7 separate regions of the Homo sapiens genome follow, and all the other regions are linked to region 4. The links come from fine-mapping of genetic effects on plasma protein levels. A gene starts in region 4. Each other region holds a variant in brackets. All regions are shown on one strand. Distances are between the middles of the regions.

Region 1 (4,065 bases), 81 kb before region 4:
TGCCCATTCTTCCAACCGCGACTCTCGTCCATCGGAGCACTCACTCTCTGGATCAGCCACAACCTCTCTGGTGCCTTTGAAACACAGAGTGCCTGGGGGTGCAGACAGAGGAGGATAAGCACTCATGCTTCCTACTTCCACTCAGTTGATAATAGTCTGCCCAGCACGGGCCTACAGTATGGCAGAAGTCAGTTAAACCTCAGACCACTGAGGCACGTGGGCTGGCTCCTCACATCCCTCCAGCCTCATGGGGGATGAACGGGCCAAGGAGCTGCTTGGCTTCCTTCCAATCTCCAGGCTCCCAACCCAACTCAGGGAACCCACATCTGACATTCCACTCAGGGTGGGGGCCGTGGCTAGGGGAGGAGGAGCATCGCATTCACCCCTCCAGGGGAGAGCCATCGCCTGCATCCTTGGCCAGGCCTTTCTGGACTTCAGGATCCTTGTCTGCAGAACAAAGGGGTTTCAGCCAAGTCAGGATGACTCAAAGTGCATCTTGAGGAATGCTGACAGACGTTACTTAACGCCTCTGTGCCTCATCTGTAAAACAAAGATAACAGCAACACAAAGGCCACAAAAAAACCAAAGGAAGGGCTCTTTGACAAAATAAGTTTAGGAAGGGCTGCACTGAACAGGGCTCTGGCCTCAGGACCACAGAGCCTTCAGATGCTGCTGTGGCCACATCGCCAAGATGCACCACACCCAGGGCCTCCACCTTGGAAACTTCTGAAGTCAAAGATCTCAGGATCCCTGAAGCATCTGTCCAGCATCACGGGTAAAAATTTGCTGCTCCCATCTGTGTGGCCTCAGGCAAGCCACCTCTCTTTTTTCCCTCCCCGCTACCTCTGTCATTTGTTCCTTATCTGTAGGGTAACCATAATCAAATTGGGGTTGTTGTTAGTCATTCATGAGATAAGATGTGTAAAGCCCTTAGCATGAGTTATTACAGGTCTGTCCAGAATCCCATACTCAAACCCTGGGGGCCAGATGTGATTCAGAATTCTGAATCTCTCAGATTTAGAAAGGTAATATGGTTCACATGCCGTGCATTATGCAGTGCCCTCAACAGAGTCCGAGGTTACACCCAATAACCCAACACATCACTATTTCTGCAGTAAGTTGTATAAATATTCACACTGAGTGGGACATGAGTTTTAGCACCAAACATACAAAAAAGCTTTTGATTTTCATGCTCTGGGGAATTGCTGGTATCGCATCTAGAAGGTTGCGAACCTGTGTTACTATCTTCAGCTCCTCTAGCTTGGAAACCATCATTTTTCTTGGAGCAGCCCATTCAGCTGGGGATGCAGGAGGAGCAGGTTGGACCTGGGGTGAGGCCTGTCTGGCAGCACGGAGGCTGGCAATTGTGATTGCCTCAGCAGAGCCTCTGAGGCTCATCTGTCTGAATCGGAGCAGAACCCTCACGGCACCCCACCCACTGCAGACCCATGGCAGCTCCAACCCTACAGACTCTTCTACGCTTAGTGGGAACATACTGATTCCCAGCTGTTTGCTTCACTTGGCACATGGTTCTCATTCCAGAGGGAATGGCTGGGTGAACAGCAAGCACTGAGGCAAAGAGGCTTTCTTGAAAAGGATAAAAGTGGATGAAGTTTCCAGTTTGCAGGAAAGACACAGCTAATAGATTAGGCAGACTTTAACAAGCCAAGAGCCAAATGCATGTGAATGTGCTTGGCCAGGAGTTGCAGTTTGCGGCTCCCTGGACTAGAGAACCAGCCCTGCCACATCTTTAACAGAAAGTTCTTCTCCTGCTAATCCTTCTGAATCCAAAGGGATTAGCAGAAGAGGAACTGTCAGGGTGGCTGGGCTGGGGAGTGTGGTGGGAAAAGCGGTGGTCTTGGAAGCGAGACTTGCTAGCACAGTTCCTGATGGGTTTGAAGTCCCACCCTTCTACCTACAAGCTGGGTGACCTTAGGTACGTTATTTAACCCCTCTGTGCCTCATCTGTAAAATGGAGAGAGTAACAATCACACCTCCCCATGTTGTTGCTGTGAGGTTAAATGCTTTGATCCATGTAAACCACCTATCCTAGGGAGTCTGCCCTTCTCCCCGCCCCAGGTAGGAAGAGGTCAGTGTTGATGGGAGTGCCTGGAAATGGTGTCCTTCCCAGATAAGCTAAGGAGGGAGAGCTGGGTCCTATGCCACAGTGCTACAAGTGGCTGCTGTGCACTGGGCAGGCTGAGAGGGGCCACTC[C/T]GTATCTGCCCATGTGCCCCCACTGTCTATGCTGAGCAGACCTGTTCACATCAGCACACAAAAGGGCTTGGTGCAAGCTGGGGCCTTGCTCACTGACAGGAAGAGTCTGGCTTGGTCTTTTCAAAGAGAAACTCTACATACACACACACACACACACACACACACACACACACACACACACCACAAAACCAGGCAACCCTGCCAGGCAGATTTCCCCTCCTTTCTTAGGCGGCCACCTCTGCCCCATTTCAGTGTAAAGGAAACCTGCTCTCAGAATGTGGCTCAGTTTGCCTACCCTTCCAGCTGCCGGGCCAGTGCCTTCACCTGGATTACTAGTTAACTTTGTTTAATTCTTACAGCCAGGCAGTATGGAAATCAACAAAGACCACCCAAGGGAGAACAGACAGAGGCTTGCTACGGCAAGGGGGTCAGCACCATCACTTGCATTTGGCAGGGACTCCAAGACAGGCAGGGACTGGGAAAGCTTTATAGTGAGAAAGAAAGGGAAGGCTCCAGGTGCACCCTGATTGGAGGCTGCTGGCATGAGAGACACTGGAGATGGGCAAACTAGAGGTGGGGCATCCTAACTGATTGGTTAGGGGAGCATATTTGGCTTTCTCTGATTGATCCTGAGTTGGAAGTAGGGACAAAAATAAGGAAGCTGGCAGTCACTGACTAGGTCTTCACCCTACTGAGCAGATGCTACAGACATTGTGGTTGGTTCTCTGAGCTGGTTGCTACAGAGGTGGTGGATAGAGTTTTATTATTATATGTAGTTTGGGCATTGTCCACTTGCATGTCAGTCTCTCGGTGGTGAGACAGGATTAGATCTGTTTTATTTCAAAGCGGCTGGTTAAGTCACAAAGTAGAATGAGCCTCATCCTAATGTGAGAGCTCCACATTATGTTTTGCAATGAAATGTTTCTTTGTATTCCTTTCTTCTTGCCATTTTCTAGGATGACAAGTGTCTCACTCCCACCTCTGGCTGAGTGTAGGTCTACCAGGCAGAAGGCAAAGCAGAGACTGTTAAACAGAAACTGGCTGAGGCCTAGAGGAACAGCATCACTTGATAAGGGTATCCTTGGAAAGAACTGAGAACACAGGAAGAAGAGAGGAGAAAAGACAAAAAGTCAAAGTCAAATAAACATTGGTGACCTTAAGAGAAATGCCTGAAATCTCTAAATCCAAACTCCCTTTTCCAAGGGCCTGAGTCTTGCCCAGGACACTTCTACATTTCCACGCCCACTGAATATGCCAGGCATGTTGGTTTATTGCAGGCCCCTGTTACCTATCTCCTACATTAGGTTGTAAAAGATCTAGCAAAAGGCACAGGGCCCAGATGGTTTTATGGGAGAGTGCTATAAAACTTTTGAGGAATAAATGGTTCTTATTTAAACTCTTACAAAGCATTAAAAAGATAAAATAAAATTCTGAATTTATTTTATGAGGTATGTTTAAATTTAATAGTAAGACAGCCATGGAGTGCCCAAAAAGGAAAACCTTATGAATGTATATGCAAAGATTCTAAGTAAAATATTGGCAAGTTAAATTCTGCAGTTCCCAAAATACTAACATACCTCAGCCTAATAGGTTTTTTCTGAGAATGTAAAGATTATTCAGCATTAGAAAATAAAGGAGAAAAACTATATGCTCAATAGATATTGAAAAGAGCATTTAATAAAATTCAATCCCCATTCTTGATTTTTGAAAAATGGTTTTAGTAAGCTAAGAATAAAAAGAAACTTCCTTAACTTAATGAAAGATATTTATCAGAAATGATTTCTTTAAACCTGACAAAACATAATAGAAACCACAGAGGTGTTCCCATTAAAGTCCAGAATAAGATGTGG
Region 2 (4,065 bases), 31 kb before region 4:
CCCTTTCTCTGACTTCACATAGCCCCTTCCTGTGACCCCATTGCCCCTTCCTGTGACTTCACACTGCCCCTTCCTGTGGCTACACACAGCTCCTTCCTGTGGCCTCACACTGCCTGTGGCTCCACACTGCCCTTCCCTGTGACTTCACATAGCCCCTTCATGTGACTTTCCACTTCCCTTCCTGTGACTTCACACAGCTCCTTCCTGTGGCCTCACACTGCCTGTGGCTCCACACTGCCCTTCCCTGTGACTTCACATATCCCCTTCATGTGACTTTCCACTTCCCTTCCTGTGACTTCACACAGCTCCTTCCTGTGGCCTCACACTGCCTGTGGCTCCACACTGCCCTTCCCTGTGACTTCACATAGCCCCTTCATGTGACTTTCCACTTCCCTTCCTGTGACTTCACACAGCCCCTTTCATGTGACTTCACACTGTGCCTTCCTGTGGCTTCACACTGCCCCTTCCTGTGGCTTAACAGAGCCACTTCCTGTAAGTTCACCCTGCCCCTACTTGTGACATCACACAGCCCCTTCCTGTGGCTTCACACTGTCCCATTCAGTGGCTTCACACTGCCCCTTCCAGTGGCTTCACACAGCTACTTCCAGTGGCTTCACACAGCCCCTTCCTGTGACCTCACACTGCCCCTTCCTGTGACCTCAGAAGCCCCTTCCAGTGGCTTCAAACAGCCCCTTTCTATGGCTTCCCACAGCCTCTTCCTGTGACTTCCCTCTGCCCCTTCCTGTGACTTTCCACAGTCCCTTTTTGTGACTTCCCACTGCTCCTTCCTGTGACTTCCCATTCCCCTTCCTGTGGCTTCACACAGCCCCTGCCTATGGCTCAACACTGTCCCTTCCTTTGGCCTCACATTGCCCCTTCCTTTGGCTTCACACTGTCCCTGTTACTTCACACAGCCCCTTTATTTGGCTTCACACTGCTCCTTCCTTTGGCTTCACACTGCCGCTTCCTGTGACTTCACACTGCCCTTTTATCTGGCTTCACACTACCCCTTCCTATGACTTCACACAGCCCCTTCCTTGGCTTCACACAGCCCCTTCCTAACGTCACACTGCCTCTTCCTGTGGCTTCATACTGACCCTGTGGCTTCACACAGCCTCCTCCTGTGACTTCACACAGCCCCTTCCCTTGGCTTCACACAGTTCCTTCCTGTGATGTCACGTAGCCCCTTTCTCTGGCTCCACACAGCCCCTTCCTGTGACTTCACATAATTTCTTCTTATGACATCTTCCAGCCCCTTCCTATTGTTTCACACTGCTCCTTCCTGTGACTTCACTCTGCTTCTTCCTGTGACTTCACATTGTCCCTTTCTGTGACTTCACACAGCCATTTCCCATGGCTTCACACAGCCTTGACTTGCTGCAATTCAGTGTGTGCTAAATCCTAGAAGCCAGCCCTGCCTTGTAAATGACAGCCCACACAGTGGGTTCTTACATACAGAAAAAGGTTCCTATTTGCAATAAAAATCTCTTGTGATCTCCTAACCATTTTTTTTTTTTTTTTTTTTGAGATGGAGTCTCACTCTGTCGCCAGGCTGGAGTGCAGTGGTGCGACCTCGGCTCACTGCAACCTCTGCCCTCCAGGTTCAAGTGATTCTCCTGCCTCAGCCTCTCAAGTAGCTGGGACTACAGGCGCACGCCACCACACCCAGCTAATTTTTATATTTTTAGTAGAGACAGGGTTTCACCA[T/C]GTTGGCCAGGATGATCTTGATCTCCTGACCTCGTGATCTGCCCACCTCGGCCTCCCAAAGTGTTGGGATTACAGGCGTGAGTCACCATGCCTGGCCCATTTCTTAATCTGCCTAAGCAAATGCCCTCTTGGCACATTTGAAGAAAACTATTTTGAACAGTTAAAAACACTATAGATATTTTACCTTAATGGATTTGTTGGTGGGTGGAGAGGGGGGAGTTGGGGAAGGTAAGAGGCTAAAGGTCCATGGCAGGGTGCAATTTGAAATTCCTCTGAGGCTCAGATCTGAATCTCATTTACTTCAAGCAAATATGGTAGGAGGAGCCATCCATGTGTCCATGGCTGTCTGCCCAGGTTCTGCTGCTTAGCTTCCATAGCATAACATCAGGGATATTGTAATCTTATTATGTGATGGAAACTTCCTTGGAGAACAAATGGCAATAGCTAGTGCTGGGGAAGGAATGAAAACCAAAAGAAGCCTTAGAAAATGATGGTTCTCAGTTGGGATGGGTGTGGGGAGGAAGTGGTACACAGGGAGACAAGACCTAGAAAATATTAGCTTTTAAAGCAAGAAAGAAAGGAATGTCAAACTTAGAGATGGCAGAAATCTATAATCCAAATGAATTCTCCACCCTCATGAAATACGAAAAGCAATTCAAAAAATCGTTTCAGCAAAGGCCTCAGCCAAGGTAAAAATTATTTTTCAAGGACAGTGATAGAAATTGAAAATTTAACTCTTGCAGCCCACTCTACTGTATTTCATGGGAGAATATAAAATGCTATAATGGTGTTTCTCAAATTCGGGGATTTGAGAAAGCCTCAAGAACTAGGCTTTCTTGAGAAGCCCTGAAAGCATTAGGGTTCTACTGAAGAGTATGGCCTAGCAGGAAGAAGGCTCTGGCTGGGTAATATCTGAGTACGAGTTCACCTTTTCAGACTCCCTCCTTCACCAGAGTGGTTTCTGTTATTGTAGGTACTGAGTTGCTATATATAACGGCCTGGAACCCAACATGTGACTGGTAGACAACAGGGAGTGAAGGATACTGGGAAAGGCATATGATGTTAGGCACGTACTTTGGAGACCCTCAGGGAACCAGTGTGGGAATCCAGAGCACCCTGGGGCAGGAGGCAGCTTCCTCCAAAGGAACAGTGTAGGGGTGAGGTTGCTCCCCAGAAAAATTGTGCTGCATTACAATTTTATCCTTCTATTCTGACCTCCCCTAATGCCAAGCACTGGACCAAGAAATAAGGACACCAGTGCGAAGAAGGCTTGGCCCCTGCCCCCCAGCAACTCACTGTCTCAAGTGAAAAGGTAATGATATAATAATTTCCCTCATGCCAATTCTGGCAAATCTAGCCTTGCCTACGTTCAGGCCACTTATCTTTCCAAACTTGTGGGACAGGGCTGGTGAAGCATGGAATGCTGGACAGCAGTTCTGGGTGCCACCACCTGAGGTCTCCACCAACATCTGATGACACCATGAGTTTGTTACATGTTTTTCACTGTTATGGCTAGAAGGATGTTGCCTCCAGATATTCTCACAATGACTCTAACAGGTAGGAAGGAAATATCATACCATTTTATGGCTGAGGAACTCGAAAAAGAGACTTCAAAATTTGCTCAAGGTGACACACCATCTAAGTAGAAGAGCTGAGATTCCAACTCTGGCCTCCAGCCTGCAGAGACCAAGCCCTTCCCAGCACACAGGAGCCAGTTCTGGCCCTGGGGACTTCAGGGCACATGGGGGAAAGAATTAGCTCAGGCCATCAGGGGTTTATCCAGAAGCATTTTCAATGCGCCCAGATAACCTGGGGGAAGCAGTGCTAGCAGAAGGATTTTAAAGACCTGAGAAATACCTGGATCCGTCTCTTCATTACATTGGCTGGGGTTCCTGATACCAGCTGAGACATGGGAGATGATGAGTTGTGTTATCTTTCAACAAATACTTACACTCACTTCAGAAAGGCAACATCTAGAAGGATGCGCTGAAGGATACACAGGAGCTGGACTCTCTAGGTCCAACCCCCCAGCTTTGCCCTAATAAGCATATATCTTCACATCAATTTCTGCATCTGAAAAATGAGTATGAAAATGGTTCCTCCCTCAAAGAGTTGCTGTGAGGATTCAACATATTTTAATGTATATAAAGTGCTGAGAACAGAGCCTTGCATACATTTTTATAGTTATTACTTAGCATTATCATTAAATCTCATGATTATTAAATCTCCAAGGTACTTGGGAACTCCAGCACCTCCTTTAAGTTACTGCCCCATGCCGCACTCTCTCCATCTGTGGATGGGCTGGTAACAGTTACAGTCACAGCATTCTGAACACTGGCAAACCATAACTGAGAGGAA
Region 3 (4,052 bases), 50 kb before region 4:
GCTTGCTTTTCCTTCTAGGGCAGCCTCTGCTGAGGCCTGCAGACCCATGCTCTTCTGTCTTATTCTCCCTTTGAATAAACTGCCATTACAACACTGTCACCATGCAACATAAGGGGCTTTTCTCACGTCTGTCCCCATCACCAAGAGCTGACCTTCTCTTTTTGTCTCCATGTGATCCCATGGGCCCATTCTGGCAGATCTCTTGATGTCCCCACACACATGCCCTTACCCTTTGCCAGAGCACATGGCCACCCAGTTAGAGATGACTTTGCCAGCCTCCTTAGCAACAGGGTGTGACCATGTGACCAAGTCCCTGACTATGTCATGAGAGCCAACCACTTTTGCCAGCCCCACATGCTTAAAAGGAAGTTAGCCACCCTGGCCTTTCTCTCTTGCCGTCCCTGCCGGTTGCACACAGATGTGGCAGCAACAGCTCTGCACATGTTAGCAAGGACACACCCTAGGGGCAGTGATTTCTCAACATGCAGTCCTTGGATTACGTTCAGGTCTTAGTTATTCAGTTAAATATATTCTATGCACACTTCAGTCAACTCTTGGTTGACTGAAGTTCAC[G/A]TGGGACCAGCAGTATCAGTATCACCTGGGGACTTGTCAGAAATGCAAATTCTCAGGGCCCCACACCAGAATTCCGGAATCAGAAACAGGGGCTGGGCAGCCTGTGTTTTAAGAAGTACTCTGGGTAATTCTGATGTGGGCTTAAGCTTGAGAGCCACTGCTCTAGGGCATCATGAGCCACAAAAGGGAAGGAACGCAGTGTCTGGAGCAGTGCAAGCCTGCAGTTGGGAGTCTCTGTACCTGTGAGCCTTTATGTGACAGACCTACAGGCAGAGCCCTGGTACATAATGGGAATCAACAGATACGTGACTGACAAAATGAATGGACAATCTAGTCCAAATCACAAAAAAACTCCCCAAATTAAGTTTACTTACTAAATCCACCAGATATTCCTTAGAGATTTTTGATACTATATGCAGTGTGAGGCAATTTGCTGGAATGCACAGAAAAGGCACACGGGTAAACAGAATTTTAAAGGTGTCAAAGAAACAACACCCACAAAACAAACCAGATCCCACTTTTTTCCCCGCATGTGCTTGCTCTTCTGAGAAGCTCCCCTGTGGGTGTCAAAAGGGGATTATCCGGGATCTGCAGTGGACATGTAGGTGAAGTCCATCCTCAGTAGCCCCCTGCTTTCTCTCAAAAGTACCACCTCTATCCCCCACAATCCACCCGAGCCATATCTATCCAGGGACCCCGACCCATGACCTAAGCTGATGGGGCCATCCTGGATCCTGACCCATGCTGGGCCAACAGATTCTCACCCCCAACCCCAGCCCTGGGAGCATGGGCTTGTGATAAATCAGCAAGGCTGACTTGTCCTGCTCATGAAATAGAGAGCAGGGGCCCATTGCCACCCAGCCAAAGATGACAGCAGTGGGCCATACTCTGTTGAGAGCCAGTCTGCAGGGAGAGAGAAGGAAACCGTTGCATAGACAAACCAGAGATGAAAACAGGAGGAAAGGCCTTGCCCAGCATCCTGCACTGCAGTTCCAATTCTGAGCCTGGCCCAGGAACAGCAGTAGCCACCGCCTGGGGCTCTTCGGGACTGCGCAGCATCCACGAAACCCATTCTCACTCTACACTTGAGCTGTGGGTCGTGGGTACTCCTGCTACATGCAGCCAAAAAGGCCTAATCCAGGTCATCTCTGAGTTCCCTTTCCTCTACAATTAAAAGAGCATTTCCTGGCTGGGCGCGGTCGCTCATGCCTGTAATCCCAGCACTTTGGGAGGCCAAGGTGGGTGGATCACTTGAGGTCAGGAGTTTGAGACGAACCTGGCCAACATGGCGAAACTTTGTCTCTACTAAAAATACAAAAAAGTAGCTGGGCGTGGTGGCGCATGCGTGTAATCCTAGCTACTTGGGAGAATCACTTGAACCTGGCAGGAGAACCGCTTGAACCCGGGAGGTGGAGGTTGCAGTGAGCCAAAATTGCACCATTGCACTCCAGCCTGGGTGACAGCAGCAAAACTCCATCTCAAAAAAATAAAATCACAAAAGAGTCTTTCCTCCTTCAGTACCCATTTGACCTTCCCCTTCCTTCCAACGGCATGGCCTGGAGGAATGCCGCCCCTCATGAATTTCCTAATTTGTCTGTGTTTTCAGTCCCTTCTAAGTCAGTGGCAGTTTCTGCAGGAACCGAACACATTTCTCAGCACCGTAAACATCAGAAAATAATCAAAAGGAAGTGGAAATGGGAAATCTCAGTTACAGCCCAGCTGTAAAAAGTGCCCATGGCTCCCTCCTACCTCCAGTTCCTCTACATTGGTTCTCTCCCTGTCCTAACCCCTTCTGCCTCCTGGACATGAGGCCAGCATCTCCCTCTTAGCACCTCCATGAGTGGTGCACTGATGTCTCTTGGCCCCACTTTTGCCAAACACCTCAGCTGCAGGAAGCCAGTGTGTGGATCCCACTCTCTGGACCAGCTCCCTCATCTACAAGGGGTTGGGTTGGATGAAATAGCCTTTGAGGCCTCACTTCCCCCAATACCCAGTGATTCTAGCTCTTGGTGGACAGTGGAGGTGGACTGACTCAGCTGTGGGCTCCCCTGAACCTCCTCCTCCTGTCCATGTCAAGCACCTGTAGCAGAACACAGCTGCACAAGAGGACGCACACACCACCATTGCCCAGTAAGTCAGTGTAGGCCCTGGAGGGTGGCTTTCAAAGAAGAGGGTTGAAATGAGGGTTTTCTGCCCCTGCCCAGTCACCACCGGGAGACACAATCACTCCCCTTGGCCTGAACAGTGAGACCATGATAACCAAAGCCTCCCTTGCAGCTCTGAGCTGATCCCCCAAGACTCAGTGGGACATGCCAATACAAGGCGACTCAGGGCCAATGGATACTTTCCATCCACCTGAAGCTGCTGCTGGAGGGACCACTTAAGCTCACCTTCCCTCCCCCATACCTGGAGGGGAGGAGACAGTAGAGAAAATCCCCTCTGGCCTCTGGCACCCACGTGCTAAAATATCTTCCCCCCTCACCTGACACCCCATGCATTAATGCTTCTGTGAAGCCAGCAGGTGAGCCTATATGTCCCAGGGCCACAAAGCCCTGCTTGGACACCCTGCTTAAGAAGGGGTGGGGTGGTGACCAGCAAGCAGAAGGGGTGGGGCGGGGACCAGCAAGCTAAATAAACAGTGGGGAAATCAGGTGAGTCATGCTTCTGATGTCCCCCTCACTTCAGCCAGGGCCTCCAGGGCCACAGGGCAGGGAGACAAAGCCTAGAGAATATTTTCCTTGTAAGTTGTGTGGTCCTCTAGACAACCTGTGCTCCCCAAACCTGGACTGCATCTGGAATCTCTCGCCTGCTTACCAGAGATGGGACAGAACAATGGTTCTTAAACTTGCTCTGGGGATTCCTTCATGTTCTCCCATGGGGTGGGGGGTTAGGAGATGACTCTGTGTGCTCTGCACTTGCCACCCCCACCCACACACACATACACTTCCACCAAGAGAGCTCTGTGTTCTTTCATTAGGTGGGTTTAGCTAATTTACATTACTTGATATGCCATACATATTTAGTCTTAGTTCTGTTGTAATATTTTATGGTATATTTTCTGTATTGTAAATTCAAAATAAAATTCTAAGCCCCCTGACCATCTGAATGGACCCCTCCTTTTGGCCAAGGGCCTTCCAAAGTTAACCTGAAAAACTGGTTCAGGCCATGATGGGAAGAGGAAGCCAGACATGCCTCATTATACCGTCCTCCCTTTTGAAATTTAGGCCCAGCTGACCAGCATTGACATCAACACAGACCTTAAGACTGTTAGAACAGCCTCTTTATGTCTGATAAGAAACATTTACAGTCTATTTCCTCAAGCCAGCTACCTAGAGGCTCCAACTGCATGATAAAGCCTTGGTCTCCACAAGCCCTTATCTTAACCCAGACATTCCTTTCTATTGATTCTAAGTCTTTAGACAATAACTTAACTCTTTCAATCAATTACCAATCAGAGAATCTTTGAATCTACCTATGAC
Region 4 (4,065 bases):
CCCAAAAACTATTTTAGGACTATCTCAAGGAATGACCACTCTGTGGACATAGGGATATCTTGGGAAGTGCAGCTTTGAGCCCCAGCTTTCTCCCGTTCTCTCAGCCTTCTTGCCCTGTGGTTCTCAGCCCTGGCAGCACACTGGGCTCACTTGCAGAGCCTGAAAACATCCCTTGGTCTGGGTCTCATCTGGATTTGGGCTGGGGGATGGGGGCAGCCTGAGTCAGGGCTGAGAACCACTTCTTCCCCACACCTTTTTAGTTGTTCATGCTAAGCACAGCTCAACACTAGAATTGAGATCCAATCTCAAAATTATTCACATATCACCCATTTTTGGAGCTAAATGGCACCTTGAATAACATCTAGTCCAATCTCTCATCTAACAGAAGAGGAAACTAAGGTCCTCAAAGGATTCCTAGCCCCCTGTCTCCTCCCATGCTGCTTCTAGCCAGTGCCAGGCTGCCCTGTGGTCTCTGGACCTCAAGACCCTTCATTCAGATGGAGAAGCAAAGGACAGCCTTCAGATCTCCAAGGCCATTTCACTGCCAGAGGATGACCATCAGGCCCCTCTCTCTGCAAGTGAACCCTGAGACAGTGAAATGTTGACACAAGTCCTCTTCCTAACACAATACCAGAACCCAGAGCCAGGGACGTGAAACCGGGAAGCTGCAATGACTCACAGAACGGGAAGCTTACGCTGGCAGTGGGGCAAACACACCAATGTTCCCCTAGGCAGCCTGAGCAGAAGGCAGGTACCATCTCTCCTCCAGGCACTCTGCTTCAGCCGCAGACCACAGAGCCTCTGCTACATTTGCCTTTAAAGCCAGGAGACTCCAGCATGCTAATGCCCCTCGGAGTGGATGGCTGTGGCCTGAGTTCTGGTAACACTCTTGCTCCTAAACAGGGAATTTGTAATAGGATATCTCCACACTTTTCGTTTCACATCCTGTACCCCCAATCATTCCCCCTTTTGAAGCTTAAGATTCCACTATTTCCTTCTCTTAGCAGCTTTGAGAAAAAACCTGAAGCTGGATAGGTGTTAGGAGGGGTGAAACATACACACACCCCTAGCCTCAAAGGTACCCTTCCCTGAGCCCCCAGCTCCTTATGACCAGCCCTCCACCTCTGTTCCAGCCACCTGCCAGGCCCCCCTGCACACAAAGGAGCTGTTCTCACAGAGACCCTCCATCCTACAGCGCAGTCTCTAGACAGCCTTCTAAACCCCAGGCCCAGCAAAACTCCCCACAAAGCATCTCCAGTGGGTTCCGATCTGCCTTCTGTGAGCTTGGAAGGAAAGGGAAGAGGCGAGCAGGCACGGAAGCAGCCAGGGGAGCCCAGTGAACTGCAGGAGCCCAGTTGGGGTTGCAGGGGTTTTCTGCTGCGGGAGAAGCAGAGCAACTAACCAGCGGCCGGGCCTGAGGGACGCCCCTTTCCTGGGGTTGCATGTGTCCTTTAGCTAAGCCGCCTGGGCCACATTCTCGATGGGTTTTTCTTTTCTGCCTGTTAGTGTCTGTGAAGTTGATCAATGGAAGGGCCACGTCCACAAGATCCTGGTTTCATCGTGACATCCCAGACCCACCAGTGCTTCCACATCTGCCCAACAGTCCTCCTGTCGGGGAGGTAGAGGAAGGCGGATTGGAACCTTACTAGAGCCAATTTAACTCAATGTTAATTTAGTTATTAAATGTTAATAAACGTTAGGACATTATTTTTAATATCAATACATAGCTAAATTAGAGAAGATAGTATAAAATTCACATGAACTTTGGAGAGTATTAAAATGACTTCAAAAGCATCTCATCAGAGGCTGCCGTGGGTTCCCCAGGGAACGCTCCCCTCTCCCTGCCTTGTGGATTGCATGAAGATTGCAGAGTTGCGAGTGGGTTACGGTTAGGTCAAGGAGTGCAGATTAGTAATAAAAGCCCCCTTATTACGGTCCGCCCCACTAAGAGCGGCAGGAAAGCCGATCGCCCCCAGCTCTGGTGCAGAAATGAAAGCCGCCGCCGCCCCATGCAACTTTCGGGGAACAACTCCGGCCTCGGGAGGCCGCGCAGGCTGCGCGCGCCCTGGGCCGCTGCGCGTTGACTGCAGCCACCTGTCCTGGTGATCGCCCCACCCTCCGCTCGCGCGTTCCTTCCCGCGAGTCCTACCATGTCCCCGGCGGTGCCCCGGCCGGCTCCTCGGCGCGCTCAGCCGGCTCGCAGACTCATCCCGCCTCCCCTTGGCCGCCCCCGGCGCCGTGGCTCGCCAGGCTTCCCAGGATGCGCGGCTACTCGGCTGGGGCGGGTTTCCCGGACTGAAGGTGCACACGTTCTCTGCAGCCAAGTGGCCCTGCGCCAACTCTCGGGAGATCGCTGCACACCGGGATACTCCGCGGGTGGGGAATACACGCCGGATCTACTGAGATCTACGGGGATCTGAGGGAGCCTACCCGCGGCCGCGAGCCTCTGCGGTCTACTCGGGACTTTTGCAGAGTTTGCAAAGTCCCTGCCGCGCGTCCCGGCCCAGCTTCCCCATTCCCCTGAAAGCGCGGGAGGGGGAAGCTCCCTTCACAATAAAAGCCCTGCCGGGGGCTCGGCCAGCCGCAGTCTTCTGGTCTTCTGGAGTAGGGGCCCAGGTGCTAGGAAGGAAAGGTCTACGCCCTGACTGCCCGCCTGACGGGTGATGCACCAAGGCTGGACGGTGAGGGACGCCTCTAAGGTGTGAGGGTGCTTGGTGAGTTCGCTGCAACTCAGCAATATGGCTGAGTGTTGCCCAAACTGCCACCCTCTCCTGCCAAGCAGGACAAGTCTTTTTCTTTACTGTCGCTTGTCAGAAGGACAAGTCTTTTTTTACTGTCACTTCTTCGCCTTGTTTGGGTTCAGTCCCCAAGAGGATTTGGAAGGAAAATCCGTTGACCACTAAGCTAATTAACAATGAAGAGTTTTTGTCCTTGAGAACTAATCACTGTTAAAGTCACTGAAGTAAGTGGCTGATACCTCTCTGCTTTGGATGCACAGACAGTGCCTTTGTGTCCCCTGAGTCACCTACTGCCAACAAAGGCACAGTCAGAGCAAGACCTGAGAGTCTATCCGTTCCCCGTTGGGGAATGTCCTGGGCTTAGGGGTTCTGTAGTCCCAAAATCAGGGCTAGCCCCACTATTAACAGCTGGATGACCATCGACCAGTCCCCAGACGTCTTTATGACTTGTGTCCCCCAGTGGCCCAATGTTTGGACCCCAGGATTATTAAGAGCCTGTAGACAATGGATGGAGGCGAGGCAGAGTCAGCAGTAGGGTGCTCTGAGAGAATTTGGGGGCCAGGCTGAAAAATTAGCCTCCAGTACTGAAACTAACAGGAAGCATCATTAGCTAGATGAAGACAGGCATCTTCCCAGCAGTCTCCTGCCCCAGAATGATCTGAGGTTATCACTGATGGCAGTGCTTCTAAAGGGAAGCAAAGATCCAGAGAGTCCCCTTAAATTGTGTATGTGTGTATGGGCAGGAGGAACAGATGAAGGGAAAGTATTCGGTCCTTAACATTCCAGATGCTTTCTGTACATTATTTCATTTAATAACCACAAACGATCCTAAAAGGAAAACTTTTGCAAATTAGGAAAGTCAGGATTAGGGAGGTGAAGTAACTTTCCTGAGACCAGATCGCCAGTAAACAGTTTAGCAAATCCAAGTCTATTTGCCAGAACATGAAACAAAGAGGAAGACTTGATATGGCAGGAACAGGAGGCAGGATGTAGCACTGCAAACTGCAGCTTGTCTGTGCATATGGACTACTGAAAGGACAGAGAGTTTGAGCCCTGGTTGGGAAATGAGGGAAGAGGGTGGAGGACAGTACAAACCATTCAGGGTTTTATTTAGATGTTTAGGGAGACGCTGTGATCTTTTGAGTCTCATTTTCTGACTGTGACCCCACACAAGATATATATTAAACATATATGTATAAATGTAACTAAAAGATTGTTTTATAAAACATTACTTCATGTGATGCACTCTGACATTTTCTATTCTATTCCAATTTTATGTATTTTTAATGATGGTCTCAAATCACTAACTTAGACAGGAAGAGAGTGC
Region 5 (4,065 bases), 110 kb before region 4:
AATTAGCACACATTTAGTGGCTTAAAATGAAAGAAATTTATTCTCTCCCAGTTCTAGAAGCCAGAAGTCTAAGATTGAGGTGTCAGCAGGGCCATGCTCCCTCTGAAGGCTCTAGGGGAGAATCCTTCCTTTCTTCTATTTTGCTTCTAATGGTTTTGGTCATCCGGGCTGGCTCTTTGGCTTATAACTACATCACTCCAGTCTCGTCTTCATCTTCACATGGCCTTCTGTTTCTCCGTGTGTCCTTTTCTGTCTCTTTTAAGGGTAGTCACATTGGATTTATGACCCATCCTCATCCAGTATGATCTCATTTCAAGATTCTTATCTAATTGTCTGTGCAAAGAGCCTTTTTCCAAATAAGGTCATCTTCTAAGGTTCTGGGTAGACATGATTGCCTGAGTGGGAGTCACCTCTCCTTTCTCCCTTCTGAGAACAAAAAATGAAGCCACTCCTTTGTATCCTGGCTTAGCTGGGCTTATGTTTATTGCTGGCATCCTGCTTCATAGTTTATTGCTAAACAGGTGAGAAGCCCAGGTCAGCGTGATGCTTTATCTGATCATCCAGGCACCCAGGAGCCAGAGAGGCATAGCAGCATGTCCAGTGTCACAGAGCAAAGTGATAGACCTGATCTGAAGTTCTGCAGGGTTCCTGCTGCAACGTTTGGCCCTTTGTCTTTCCCCCATAGTACGTGATAGGGAAGAGTCACATGCATGGCATACTCCTATGGGCATACAGGTGTTGTTGAAACCCAAAAGATATTTTGCAGTGAAGTAAAGCAGAACAGTAACTCATACTAGCTGTTGCTATTAATAAGGCATAACTAACATGTAGGCTGCTCACTGCTGCCCACAGCTTAGGCAGTGGGGTTGTGGGTTCTTGTGCAAGCTAAATGGTGATCCTCATCTTCCTGACTCAAGATGTATCAGAAAGCAACTGAGTGATGGTGATGTGATTATAAGGATGACATTGAGCCTACTCTAATTTATATACAGAAGAAATAAGAAAACATTTCCAAGCTTTTAAACTGATAAGTGGTAATGTGATTCATGGCCTGCTTCTTTGGTTAAGAGCTACTTGGTTTTCCTCAAACCTGTTTGTACCCCAGAATCACCTGGGAGCTTGGTTAAAAAAAAGCAGGATGCCAAGGATACCTCAGGTTCTGGTCAAAATAGAGTAGACAAATTTATCCCTATCCCTTTTACTAATATAGCTAAAAATACTGGACATTATATATAAAACATTGGAAGACTGAAAGGTGGAGAAAAGAGTGAACCAGCTGGGGATCCTGGAACTCACAGAACAACATAATGGTGAGTTCTCTGGGTTTTCTTCTTGCCTCCTATATATTCTACCGTGGTGCTAGAGAAGCCCACAATCCAGGAATGCCAGTGAGCACAGAACAAAACAAAGCCCCAAGGAAGCTTGGTCTCTTTTGTCAAAGGACTGGAAGAAGGAACAGTTTAGCAAAACTTTTTTTTTTTTGCTGTAAATACCCCATTCCTGCAAAACACCAGGGAAAATTTCCTCCTCCTCCACCCCTCAGTTTTAGTAAAGGCCAGATGGATAGCGTATTAGTCCGTTTTCATGCCGATAAAGACATACCCAAGACTGGGCAATTCACAAAAGAAAGAGGTTTATTGGACTTACAGTTCCACATGGCTGGGGAGGCCTCACAATCATGGGAGAGGGCAAGAAGGAACAAGGCACATCTTACGTGAATGGCAGCAGGCAAAGAGAGAGCTTGTGCAAAGAAACTCCTGTTTTTAAAACTATCAGATCTAGTGAGACCCATTCACTATCACGAGAACAGCACAGGAAAGAACCCCCCCCAACCCAAGATGCAGTCATCTCACACCAGGTCCTTCCCACAACATGTGGGAATTATGGGAGCTACAAGATGAGATTTGGATGGGGACACAGAGCCAAACCATATCAGATAGCCTAGACTTCCACCTTTGCCTAGGGGTAACCAGCTGCCCCACACCCTCCCCACTTGATGGGAAGCCTAGACTTTCACGACCGCCTAGTAGTAACATACGTCCTTCACTACCATAGTCCTCTTGGGGCCTAGACTTCCATCCACACCCCAGGGTGTCATTGGAGGCCAACTGCAGAGCCTGGGTTTTGACACCCTGACACACACTCTGTGCTGAGTATCCCTCCCCCTCCCAGCCACGATGGTATTGGTGGAGGCTGAGTAGGGAGCCTGGATGCCCACCCCCGCCCAACAGTAAAGAGTCAATGCTCTCCTTTCCCCCACCAGTACAGTTTTAACAGAAGCTACTAAAATAGAAGATTTAAGTAAGATCCAGAGTATCATAACATTATGACC[G/A]AAATGTCCAGGATAAGTTTTAGCAAAAAAAAAGAAGTTATAAAAACTAAATGGAAATTTTAGATATGAAAAATAGAGTAAGCAGAATTTTAAAATTACTGAATGGGCTCAATCAGGAATAAAAAGGACACAGGAAAGAATCAGCGAACATGAAGCCAGAATGATAGAAATCATCCAGTCTGAACAACAGGGAGAAAAAATACCGGAAAAAAATTAACAGAGCTTCAGAGATCTGTGGGACAGTACAATTTTTTTTTTTTTTTTTGAGACGGAGTCTCGCTCTGTCTGTCACCCAGGCTGGAGTGCAGTGGTGCGATCTCGGCTCACTGCAAGCTCCACCTCCTGGGTTCATGCCATTCTCCTGCCTCAGTCTCCCGAGTAGCTGGGACTACAGGCGCCCGCCACCATGCCTGGCTAATTTTTTGTATTTTTAGTAGACATGGGGTTTCACCATGTTAGCCAGGGTGGTCTCGAACTCCTGACCTCGTGATCCACCCGCCTTGGCCTCCCAAAGTGCTGGGATTACAGGTGTGAACCACCGCCCCTGGCCAATACAATTTTTTTTTTTTAATCTAGCATTGGTGTAATTGGAGTCCTAGGAGAGCAGTGTGGGGCTGAAAAAGTTTTCAAGGAAATAATGGCTATTTCCCACATTTGGGGGAAGGCATGAGCCTACAGATTCAAGAATCTGAGCAAACCCCAAAGAGGATAAACCCAAAGAAACCCACACCAAGGCACCTCAGAGTCAAACTTTTGAAAACTCAACAAAATCTTAAGAGCAGCAGGAGACAATGCATTCCCTCCAGGGAAAAACAATTCGAAGGGTAGCAGTTCCTCATCAGCAGTCACAGAGGCCAGAGGAGGTGTCACAGCATCATTTTTCACATACTGAAAGAAGGAAAATCTGTACCCCAAATTCTATACGCAGTGAAAATATCCTTTAGGAATGAAGCTAAAATCAGACATTTCGACATGAAGGAAAACTAAGAGAATTTGTTGCCAGGAAGTTGACCTTAAAAGAATAGTGAACTAACAGAAGTTCTTCAAAGAAGGGATATAGGAATGGAAGGAAACCTGGAACATCAGGAATGAGGGACGAACATAAAGAGTAAAAATATGGGTGAATATAATAGATGATCCTTTCCCTCTTGAGGAAATCATACTTGACAGTTGAAGCCAAAATTACTGTCTGATGTGGGTCTCATTATATGTAGAGGAAACACATAAGACAATTATAAAGGAACCTAGGTGGAGGTAAAGTTTCTACACTTATTCGAAACGTAAAATGTCAATACCAGTAGACTGTGATAAGTTACAGATTATAGTATGATGCCTAGAGCAACCACTAGAAAATCTATATCAAGGGATATACTCAAAAACACTACTGATAAATCAAAGTGGAATTCAAGTAATTCACAAGAAGGCAGGAAATAAAAGAAACAAATAATGCAGATGCCTGAGCCATACTCCAGACCTACTGAATCAGAACCTCCAGGACTGGTGCCTGGGAATATGGATTTTTATTTAGCAACTACTCCTGAGGATTCCAGTAATCAGCCAGGCTTGAGAACATCTGGAGTAGACCAGTATTTTTTAAACAGTAAGTTGCCAACCTGGTGAGTAGGTCGGAAAGTTAATTAAGATGATTATGGGCAGGTTTTTTGTTTTGTTTTGTTTCTGTTGTTGTTAATGAACTTAGAATACAGTGTACTAGAAAAAAAAAGCTAGAATGT
Region 6 (4,065 bases), 76 kb before region 4:
TTAGAGGGAATATATATGAAATATATGAAAATATATAAGAAATACTATATAATATATAAGAAATACTGTATAATACTAGAATAAAACACAGATTATTTCAATAATCTTGAAGTGGTGACAGCCTTTCTAAGAAGGCATGAAACTCAAAAGACTTAAAGGGAAGGATAAACAAATTTGACTACGTGGAAATTAACATTTTACACTTGGCAAAAGACTATAAACAAAGTTAAGAGACAAATTAGAGGCTGGAAGAAAACATTTATACCAAGTCAGCAGAGAAAAGATTGATCACACTTATTAGAGTCAAAGATTTCCAACAAATTAACAAGCAAAGGGCAAACATCTTAAAACAAAAAGACAATGCAGAAAAGAAAATACAAATGTCTGGCAAATAAGTGGAAAGATGACTTCATTCATGATTAAGGAAATGCAGCTTTTAAAATCGGTTTTCCTCCTAAATAGGCCAAAAAAAACCCAAAAGTCTGAGAATGCCAAGTGTTGGTGAAGGTGTAGAAAAATAATCAGTCTCCTACCCTCTTGGGAGAAATGTAAATTGACACCACCATTTCAGAGAGCAATTTGGCAGTTTCTCTCAGAATACTGAATGCCCATACCCTTTGCCCCAGAAATCCCGTACGGAAATCTACCTCGCAGAAATACTTGCACGCCATGCAATCATGTTCATGGCGGCAATGTCTGTAATTGATGAAAAATTGGAGCTACTTAAATGTTCATGATTATGGGACCAGCTAAAGAAAATATGACACATCCCTGCCTTGGAATTTCATGCAGTCACCAATAAAGATTGGGTCAATTCAGATGGCTGATACAGAATATAGTTAATAAAGTAAAAATATAGTGAGTTGACAAAGCATGACCACACTTTCATTTTTTAATTTGCATGTAGTGTGACCATGAATAACACACACACACATACACACCGCTAGGGAGTTTGTGGGACTTATGCTTTTTGTCATATGCTTCTATTTTTTATGGACTTGTTTTTACTGAGCATGTATTACTTTTAGACTTTTATAATTTTTTAAACCAAAAACATAACTGAGTAATAATTGAAAATTTAAAGTCTATAAAGACAAACGCATTATGTTTCATTTCTTAAGCCTGAGTCTACTTTCAGCCAGAGCAACTCCAGGCTGCAAGTGCAGTTCTATGAAGATTGTACCTTTATTAGGTTGGTCTCAGGTATTGCATGCAGGCGGGCACACATGCCACCCACACCTACACACCTCTACACACACACAAAGTTCTCCCACTCTGCATATGCACGTGCATCACACATTTTTACAGTTTCTTGAGCAGCTCACAGAACATTTTCGAATGTATTTGTTGGTGCAAGGGAATAAATAGCCAGAGCCGAGAAGGCAGAAAGGGACGCTTTGAGATTGAAAACCCCATACTACCTCCACCATCCCAGGCAGGTGAAATATCCCGTGACATCCTTGTGCCCCTCTGGCTTCTGGCTTTTCCCATTTGTCCTCAAGATGAGTGAGCCCAAGAAAATGTGGCCATCAGGATGGATGCTCATTGACTCAGGGCTGTGTGCGGCTTATGGGTCCTCGTCCCTGAAGAGTGTGAGGTTGTGCTTTTGGATGTGTCCCAGCAGCACCTGTCCTCGCTGCTCCAGGGTCTGGAGGACCTGCTTCAGCCCCTGGGCTCCGC[C/T]TTGGCTTTCCCAGAACACTGGGTCCATCTGCAGCGACTTCAGCAGCATGTTCTGTAGACACCCTGATGCGAGAACCTTCACGGCAGACTCAGGAAACCTGGAGCAAAGGCCCCAGAGCCCCGTAACAGAAAGAAAAAGCAACAGTAATCTCAGAGAATTTCAGTAACAGGTGATGCCAGATGGCCAGAGCTTGCATAGCTGAGGAACTCTGGTAAAGTCACCTGGCAAACTCCCCAGACCTGCACCTGCTATCTCACTAACAGAGGACCCTTTGCCTGGCTTTGCTGTGAAGGCAGGGGACAGACCTTTCAGATGGGTCCCATCCTACAGAGAAGCCAGGTGAATAAATTCCGCTATCCCAGGCTCCACTTGGCAAATGCAGGGCCAGAAAGAATCCTGGGAAGGCAGAGCTGCCTGCCAAGAGTGAGCTGGGAGGGGTAGACTCTCTGGCCTAGCTCTCTCACCCAGAACAAGGGAAGGACTAGCCTTCCCACACCCCAGCAATACAGCTAGTATTCTGCAGGCACGAGGCCCTCTGGATATTGGGGTAGGCCCTGCCAACTGTATCCCCTCTCAGCTTTCCCAGGGCTCCCCACCACCGCCTAAAGTTCTGATCCAATAACTTCTGTCTGATGGACTGTGGGCTTCTCAGGGCCACAGTTGAAGGTCCCAAGGTTTGCAGCAAGGCCATCAGGTCTCAGTCCCATGAACTTCCACCCAACCCTTTTGACCCTCACCCATCTATGCCCTCCAGCAGCCGAAAGTTCAGCTTGTCCTCAGGGTGCTGAAGGTTGCCAGCGTTATCGATGTAGACCAGGTGAGATGGATCGCTGCTCCGGACCTCAGGGAAGAGGGTGGACAGAGACAGAGGTGGGTAAGGGTGCAGCTACGGCTGGCACCTATGGACTTGGTCAAGATTAAGGGGCTGACAGCCCTGAGCTGTCAGTCCCACAGTCCATCCTAACAAACAGTCCTCACCGCTGAGTGCTTACTCTATGCTGGGCACTGTGCTAAGTGCTTCCAGACATCCTGTCAATTAATTCTCCCAGTAACCTTAGGAAGCAGGCACTAGTGTTAGCCCTATTTTACAGAAATGGTGGCACCTTCTTTAAGTTAAGCAATTTGCACAAAATCACACAGCTAGTAAGTAGCTGGGCTGTTTCAAACCCGGACCCATGGGGCTAAGCCATAGCACCATCTGCTAAATCGCAAGGCCAAAGGACTGATCCTATTTTGGTGGCTGAAGGGGTGAGGAGCAAGGGTGGGAATCAGCAGTTGCCAAGGTAGCCTGCTCCTCGGGGCCACCGGCTGTGAGGGGCATCGCACATGTGCTGCTCACATGTGTACACACACTCAGTCACCCCTTTGTGCCACCTGTGCCTGTGCACCTGGGCATCCCCCTGAGCATCACTGAGATCACAGACATATCCTTTATCCTCAAAAAGCACTGACCATAATCTGATTCTACAGAAGAGTTTAGCAGCTCCTAAACCTTTTCAAAACCAAAATCAGCACCAGAAAATTCTTTAGTACCTTAAAGAATATGGTGTGGTTGCGAATGGGAGGCCATCTCTTCTGGTCCCCACTCCCATGCATGCACTCCTTTCCCAAATAGCCTCCAAAAGTCCATGGGCATTTCCCACAATCCTCTCCAGTGGCCTAGGCTTAAGCTATGAACTTCTGTTTCCAGGACTCCAGCTTCCCTTCTCTCTGCCTCTTCTCCTTTCTCACCCCACTCCACATGTCAGGATCACCTTTTGCTCAAAGCCAGGTGACTCTTCCCTCTGGAAACTGCTGTCCTAAAAGATCTGTGAAATGCCTGCTCACCAGGGGTAAACAATGGCTATTAAAACTTTGTCTCTCCCATGGATATTTACCTTTGACCAGGGAAAAGGAGAGATGGCTCTGGGGGTAGGGGAGGAGAATTCCCAGCACCACCACTAAGCAATCCTGGGCTTCGGGTGATGCGGCCTCCCTGAAGCCCATCCCTGGACACCATGCTGACAGCTACCCTCTAAGAGCAAAGGGAGGCTGTGAGGACACTATGCCTCACTGCAGGAGAAGATAGAGAAGCCCTTCCCCGGGGGAAGCACCTTGCTTCTTATGCAGAAGAAGTGGCTATTCTGCCCTCTCCAATGGCCTCGGCACATTGCTTCCCACCCTGGACTCTAGTTTTGACAGGAGCAGCACCAGCCTGTGAGCCACTGCAGTCTTGGGTTCATGCCCTAATGCTGCTAGCGTATGGCCTTGAAGATTCCTTTCCCTCCAGACTGCAATTCCTCATTTACTGGCACAACGAGGATGTTGACTAGACACACCATTCTCAAACTCTACTTCCAGGAGCCCTAGTTGTTCCCTGGAGTCTCTTAGGGGCAGTGGAGACA
Region 7 (4,065 bases), 99 kb before region 4:
CTTTTGTGGGCCTCTCCAAGATCACTACCTGGTACCAGTATGGCTTTGTGCAGCCCCAGGGCCCGAAGGCCAACATCCTCGTCTCAGGCAATGAGATCCGGCAGTTTGCACGGTTCATGACAGAAAAGCTGAACGTGAGCCACACAGGAGTCCCCCTAGGCGAGGAGTACATTCTGGTCTTTAGCCGAACCCAGAACAGACTCATTCTGAATGAGGCAGAGCTGCTGCTGGCACTGGCCCAGGAGTTCCAGATGAAGACAGTGACAGTGTCCCTGGAGGACCACACCTTTGCTGATGTCGTGCGGCTGGTCAGCAATGCCTCCATGCTGGTCAGCATGCATGGGGCCCAGCTGGTCACCACCCTCTTCCTGCCCCGTGGGGCAACTGTGGTAGAGCTCTTCCCATATGCTGTCAATCCCGACCACTACACTCCCTATAAGACGCTGGCCATGCTGCCTGGCATGGACCTCCAGTATGTAGCCTGGCGGAACATGATGCCAGAGAACACAGTCACACACCCTGAGCGGCCCTGGGATCAGGGGGGCATCACCCATCTGGACCGGGCTGAGCAAGCCCGTATCCTGCAAAGCCGTGAGGTCCCACGGCATCTCTGTTGCCGGAACCCCGAGTGGCTCTTCCGAATCTACCAGGACACCAAGGTGGACATCCCGTCCCTCATTCAAACCATACGGCGCGTGGTGAAGGGCCGGCCAGGACCACGGAAGCAGAAGTGGACAGTCGGCCTATATCCAGGCAAGGTGCGGGAGGCACGGTGCCAGGCGTCAGTGCATGGCGCCTCCGAGGCCCGCCTCACTGTCTCCTGGCAGATCCCATGGAACCTTAAATACCTGAAGGTGAGGGAGGTGAAGTACGAGGTGTGGCTGCAGGAGCAGGGGGAGAACACCTACGTGCCTTACATCCTGGCTCTGCAGAACCACACCTTCACTGAGAACATCAAGCCCTTCACCACCTACCTGGTGTGGGTCCGCTGCATCTTCAACAAGATCCTCCTGGGACCCTTTGCAGATGTGCTGGTGTGCAACACGTAGCGAGCAGGCCACAGCCTGGCCTCGGGAAGGTGGCTCCTGCAGTTCAGCGTCCCTGGGCCCATTAATCCCACTGTGGAGACTTCTGGGAACTATTTATTGAGCAGGCCTGTGCCTCCACATCATCTTGTTGTCTCTGGGGTGTGGTGTCACAGCACTCCTCTTTGCCCTAGAGATAAGGGACCTGACTTCCCCTTCTCCCATCCTGAACATTTGTACCCCTGGAGAAGTTCCTTAGCAGGGAGGAGGAAGAGGAGAGGAGGAAGCAAAGAATCACAAGGAACCTCTGGCTAGGTGATCCTGATGTTTCCTACTGAGTTTTTCTGGTATCCAGATTTCTGGAAACCGAGTAATCATGTACTGTTTGATTGGGTGGTTCATCTGCTTCCATCCCAGTGAAATTTACCTGTAGCCCAGTGAAGGGTGTGTTTGGAACATTCATTAAATGATTCTAAGCATCTTGGTCAAGTCTTCTTATTGGATGGGAGGAAGGGGAGCTGGTCGTCAAAACCCAGGTGCCCTTTAATCTTGATTGTTAGCTAGGGAGACGTGGCAATGGGAAAGCGCCCAGGATGGCAAAGTGAGCAAGCTGGTTGGATTTCATCTTGACTAGCTGGACTAATATCACAGTTCCACCTACATGGGATAAAAGCCTAGAAGTAGGTAGGAGA[G/C]GGCTGAGGGGAGGAAGAGCTGTATCCACCATGGGTTTTTTTTTGGGCTCAACTAGACATTAAGACTCGCAAGACCTGGACAGATCATACCTGGCATCAGAGTTTCTTAGAAGGATGGAGAGAGATGCTCAGCATGCCAGCAGGGCCATGTCAGCAGTTCCCTTCCACAGGAGCAGTCCTTACATCAGTACTCCTGAGGGCCACCTTGATTCAGAAGCCCATGCCCCATAGGAGTCAATGTGTTTTCAACAACCCACAATCAGAGTTCCCAGGGTCCCTCAAGGGACATGCCCAGTTATGAGTTTCTGCACTTAGGGAAGCCTAAGGCCATGGTTTCTTACCAGATGGTATAGCTTATTCTTTGTCCTTCCAGCCCAGGTGTAGCTTATCAATCAGAGGTCAAAAACTCCCATGGGCAGTTTGGCCTAATACTGTACCTGACATTCAGCTAACTGGCTTGTCTGGCTTCCATGGGAGCAGAGCTAGAAAGTTAGCCCAAGATAAAATCTGTCCTGAAGAAAGAGGAGTTTTGGCCTTTTATTGTTGGGGAGACCTGCTGCAGGTCTGACTCCTGTAAGGGGGAGAGGGAGAGAAGCTGGGGAGAGGAGGTAGAGCCTCAGGCTGTAGCTCAGTGCTGAGAACCTCTCAGCAGGCTGATCGGGGAGTTTTGAGCCAAAGGTGTCCATTAGATAAGTATTCCCTCCCACCCGCCGATGCTAGTCGTCACCTGGGAGCCGCAGTGGGAAGTGTGGCCTCAGCATCAGTACCTTGGTGGATTCAGCATGGCAGCTGAGCCATCCCTTGTTCTCTGCTGCAGGAGATCTGAATGGTGCATTTTCATGGTCGCCATGGATCTTTATGACATTCCTTTCATCCAGAATATCTTTCTCCCTAACTGTAGCTTCCATCTGCTGCCACCATAAACTGCCATGAGAATCCACACATCAAGACTCAGCTCAAAGCCAGAGATCTCATACACTGCTGGGGCTGGGGGAGTGAAATGGTACAACCACTTGGAAAACCATTTGGCAGTTTTTACTAAAGCTGAGCACTTAGTTGTCCTATCTCTCAGCAATTCCACTTCTTGAGATATATACCCAAGAGAAATGAGTGCTTATGTCAGCAAAAAGACATGTCTTAAAATGTCCATGGTTCTACTCTTAATGGCCAAACACCATAAACAATTCAAGTGTCCATCAACAGGTATATTCATACAATGGACACAACAATTTTAAAAAGAATGAAGTGAATCTCAGACAACATTGAGTAAAAGAAGGCAGACCCAAAATACTTACTGTATGGTTCCATTTGTATGAAGTCCTAGAACAGGAATACAAACTTATGGCGATGGAAGTCAGAATGGTGGTTACCGGGAAAGGAGGTAAAGACTGGGATGGACACAAGGGGGTTGTGGGTTGGCAACATTGTGGTCTTGGATGGTGGTTGCACCGTGGACATTGAGGAAAGCCATCATCCTGCTTACACGGTACATTAGTGCACTCACTCACCTCTGTGCTTTCTGTATGGCACACCTTGATTTAAAAGGAAGACCACTTAGCCCAAGGGCCAGCTCTCCTGAAAACCCAGTTTGTCACACCCAAAAAGCCTTAACTCTGCTGGCCCCGCCACTGTCTCCCAGGAAGCACTTACCTCTCCGCAAGACCTTGCTCACAGGCTGGGAGCTCAGTGAGGGTTTGTGTCATGTGGGTCACAGCCAAGCGAAAGCTCAATGAATGGTTCCTTGCCTCAATGAATATGTGTATCTCTGCCTTTGTCCAAACTTTTTTACAAATTGGGAATCCGCTTTATGTGAAATTTTGCCCCCCTCTTTTTTTTCCTCTTTAACATTAAGACATGAACACTCTGCCATGTCACTGATGACTATTCTTTGGAAACAAGACTTTGGTTAGCTAGAGAACGTTGTGTACAATCACTAGGAAATTAGCCTCCTTCCCCCAGGCTCCATGGAGGAGCTGGATCCATGCCCAGCAGCCCAGGCCACCCCTTGATAGCACTGAATAGTAGCAGCATTTTTTCTTTTGCTGCTGCTGCTTTTTTTAAAAAAAACCATTTATTGGTGTTTATGGTGAAATACTCAGATCGTCAGTGTAGAGTTACGTGAGTTTTGACAAATACATACATCCATGTAACACACACATCCCTACACGATAGAGACCATCTCCATCATCCTCATATTCATAGGGGGATGAATGTATAAATAATCTCTTATGACTCCTATATATACATACATACACAAACACACACAGGAGTGATAAGAACTTACGTAACATTAGGGGCATTTACATTTCTCTATCCTGTTTATTATAAATCTGCATCTTAACCATCAA

Direction of the effects. Positions count from the first base shown, and alleles are read on the strand shown. Strength reflects both the effect of a copy and how common the allele is.
For the plasma level of the protein whose gene starts at base 2,484 in region 4, allele C in region 1 goes with a higher level than allele T (strong association).
In carriers of allele T in region 2, the plasma level of the protein whose gene starts at base 2,484 in region 4 tends to be lower than with C alone (moderate association).
For the plasma level of the protein whose gene starts at base 2,484 in region 4, A is the low allele of the variant in region 3 and G is the other (strong association).
For the plasma level of the protein whose gene starts at base 2,484 in region 4, allele G in region 5 goes with a lower level than allele A (strong association).
In carriers of allele C in region 6, the plasma level of the protein whose gene starts at base 2,484 in region 4 tends to be higher than with T alone (strong association).
For the plasma level of the protein whose gene starts at base 2,484 in region 4, C is the high allele of the variant in region 7 and G is the other (moderate association).

What was found. PIP is the posterior inclusion probability: the model's chance that the variant is causal. The UK Biobank Pharma Proteomics Project read protein levels with antibody pairs (Olink). The fine-mapping took linkage between variants from a reference panel, not from the people measured, so its PIPs are less certain.
Region 1: its variant is fine-mapped to the plasma level of the GASK1A protein (UK Biobank, PIP above 0.99).
Region 2: its variant is fine-mapped to the plasma level of the GASK1A protein (UK Biobank, PIP above 0.99).
Region 3: its variant is fine-mapped to the plasma level of the GASK1A protein (UK Biobank, PIP above 0.99).
Region 5: its variant is fine-mapped to the plasma level of the GASK1A protein (UK Biobank, PIP above 0.99).
Region 6: its variant is fine-mapped to the plasma level of the GASK1A protein (UK Biobank, PIP 0.97). The variant lies in the coding sequence of GASK1A. If it changes the protein, the assay may bind it differently, which can mimic a change of level.
Region 7: its variant is fine-mapped to the plasma level of the GASK1A protein (UK Biobank, PIP above 0.99).

Annotation. Positions count from the first base shown.
Region 1 is chr3:43,059,075-43,063,139 of GRCh38, reverse strand. No RefSeq gene overlaps it. Among named protein-coding and RNA genes, the nearest start is that of POMGNT2-AS1, 25 kb to the left of the region's middle. RefSeq lists an enhancer at 46-565. The variant C/T (reference allele first, on the strand shown) is at 2,216.
Region 2 is chr3:43,008,841-43,012,905 of GRCh38, reverse strand. All of the region lies in intron 1 of GASK1A (golgi associated kinase 1A), which reads right to left. Among named protein-coding and RNA genes, the nearest start is that of GASK1A, 32 kb to the right of the region's middle. The variant T/C (reference allele first, on the strand shown) is at 1,708.
Region 3 is chr3:43,028,015-43,032,066 of GRCh38, reverse strand. The region is part of intron 1 of GASK1A (golgi associated kinase 1A); the gene reads right to left. Among named protein-coding and RNA genes, the nearest start is that of GASK1A, 51 kb to the right of the region's middle. The variant G/A (reference allele first, on the strand shown) is at 574.
Region 4 is chr3:42,977,730-42,981,794 of GRCh38, reverse strand. It overlaps GASK1A (golgi associated kinase 1A), which reads right to left and starts at 2,484. Exons shown (of 5, transcript NM_001129908.3): 1 at 2,150-2,484. The coding sequence starts at 2,152.
Region 5 is chr3:43,083,181-43,087,245 of GRCh38, reverse strand. All of the region lies in intron 1 of POMGNT2 (protein O-linked mannose N-acetylglucosaminyltransferase 2 (beta 1,4-)), which reads left to right. POMGNT2-AS1 (POMGNT2 antisense RNA 1) reads right to left here and starts at 1,212. Exons shown (of 2, transcript XR_007095896.1): 1 at 1-1,212. The variant G/A (reference allele first, on the strand shown) is at 2,333.
Region 6 is chr3:43,053,889-43,057,953 of GRCh38, reverse strand. It overlaps GASK1A (golgi associated kinase 1A), which reads right to left. Exons shown (of 5, transcript NM_001129908.3): 4 at 2,419-2,522; 5 at 239-1,778. The coding sequence ends at 1,568. Among named protein-coding and RNA genes, the nearest start is that of POMGNT2-AS1, 30 kb to the left of the region's middle. The variant C/T (reference allele first, on the strand shown) is at 1,681.
Region 7 is chr3:43,076,673-43,080,737 of GRCh38, reverse strand. POMGNT2 (protein O-linked mannose N-acetylglucosaminyltransferase 2 (beta 1,4-)) reads left to right here. Exons shown (of 2, transcript NM_032806.6): 2 at 1-1,504. The coding sequence ends at 1,049. Among named protein-coding and RNA genes, the nearest start is that of POMGNT2-AS1, 7.3 kb to the left of the region's middle. RefSeq lists enhancers at 110-609, 610-1,111. The variant G/C (reference allele first, on the strand shown) is at 1,718.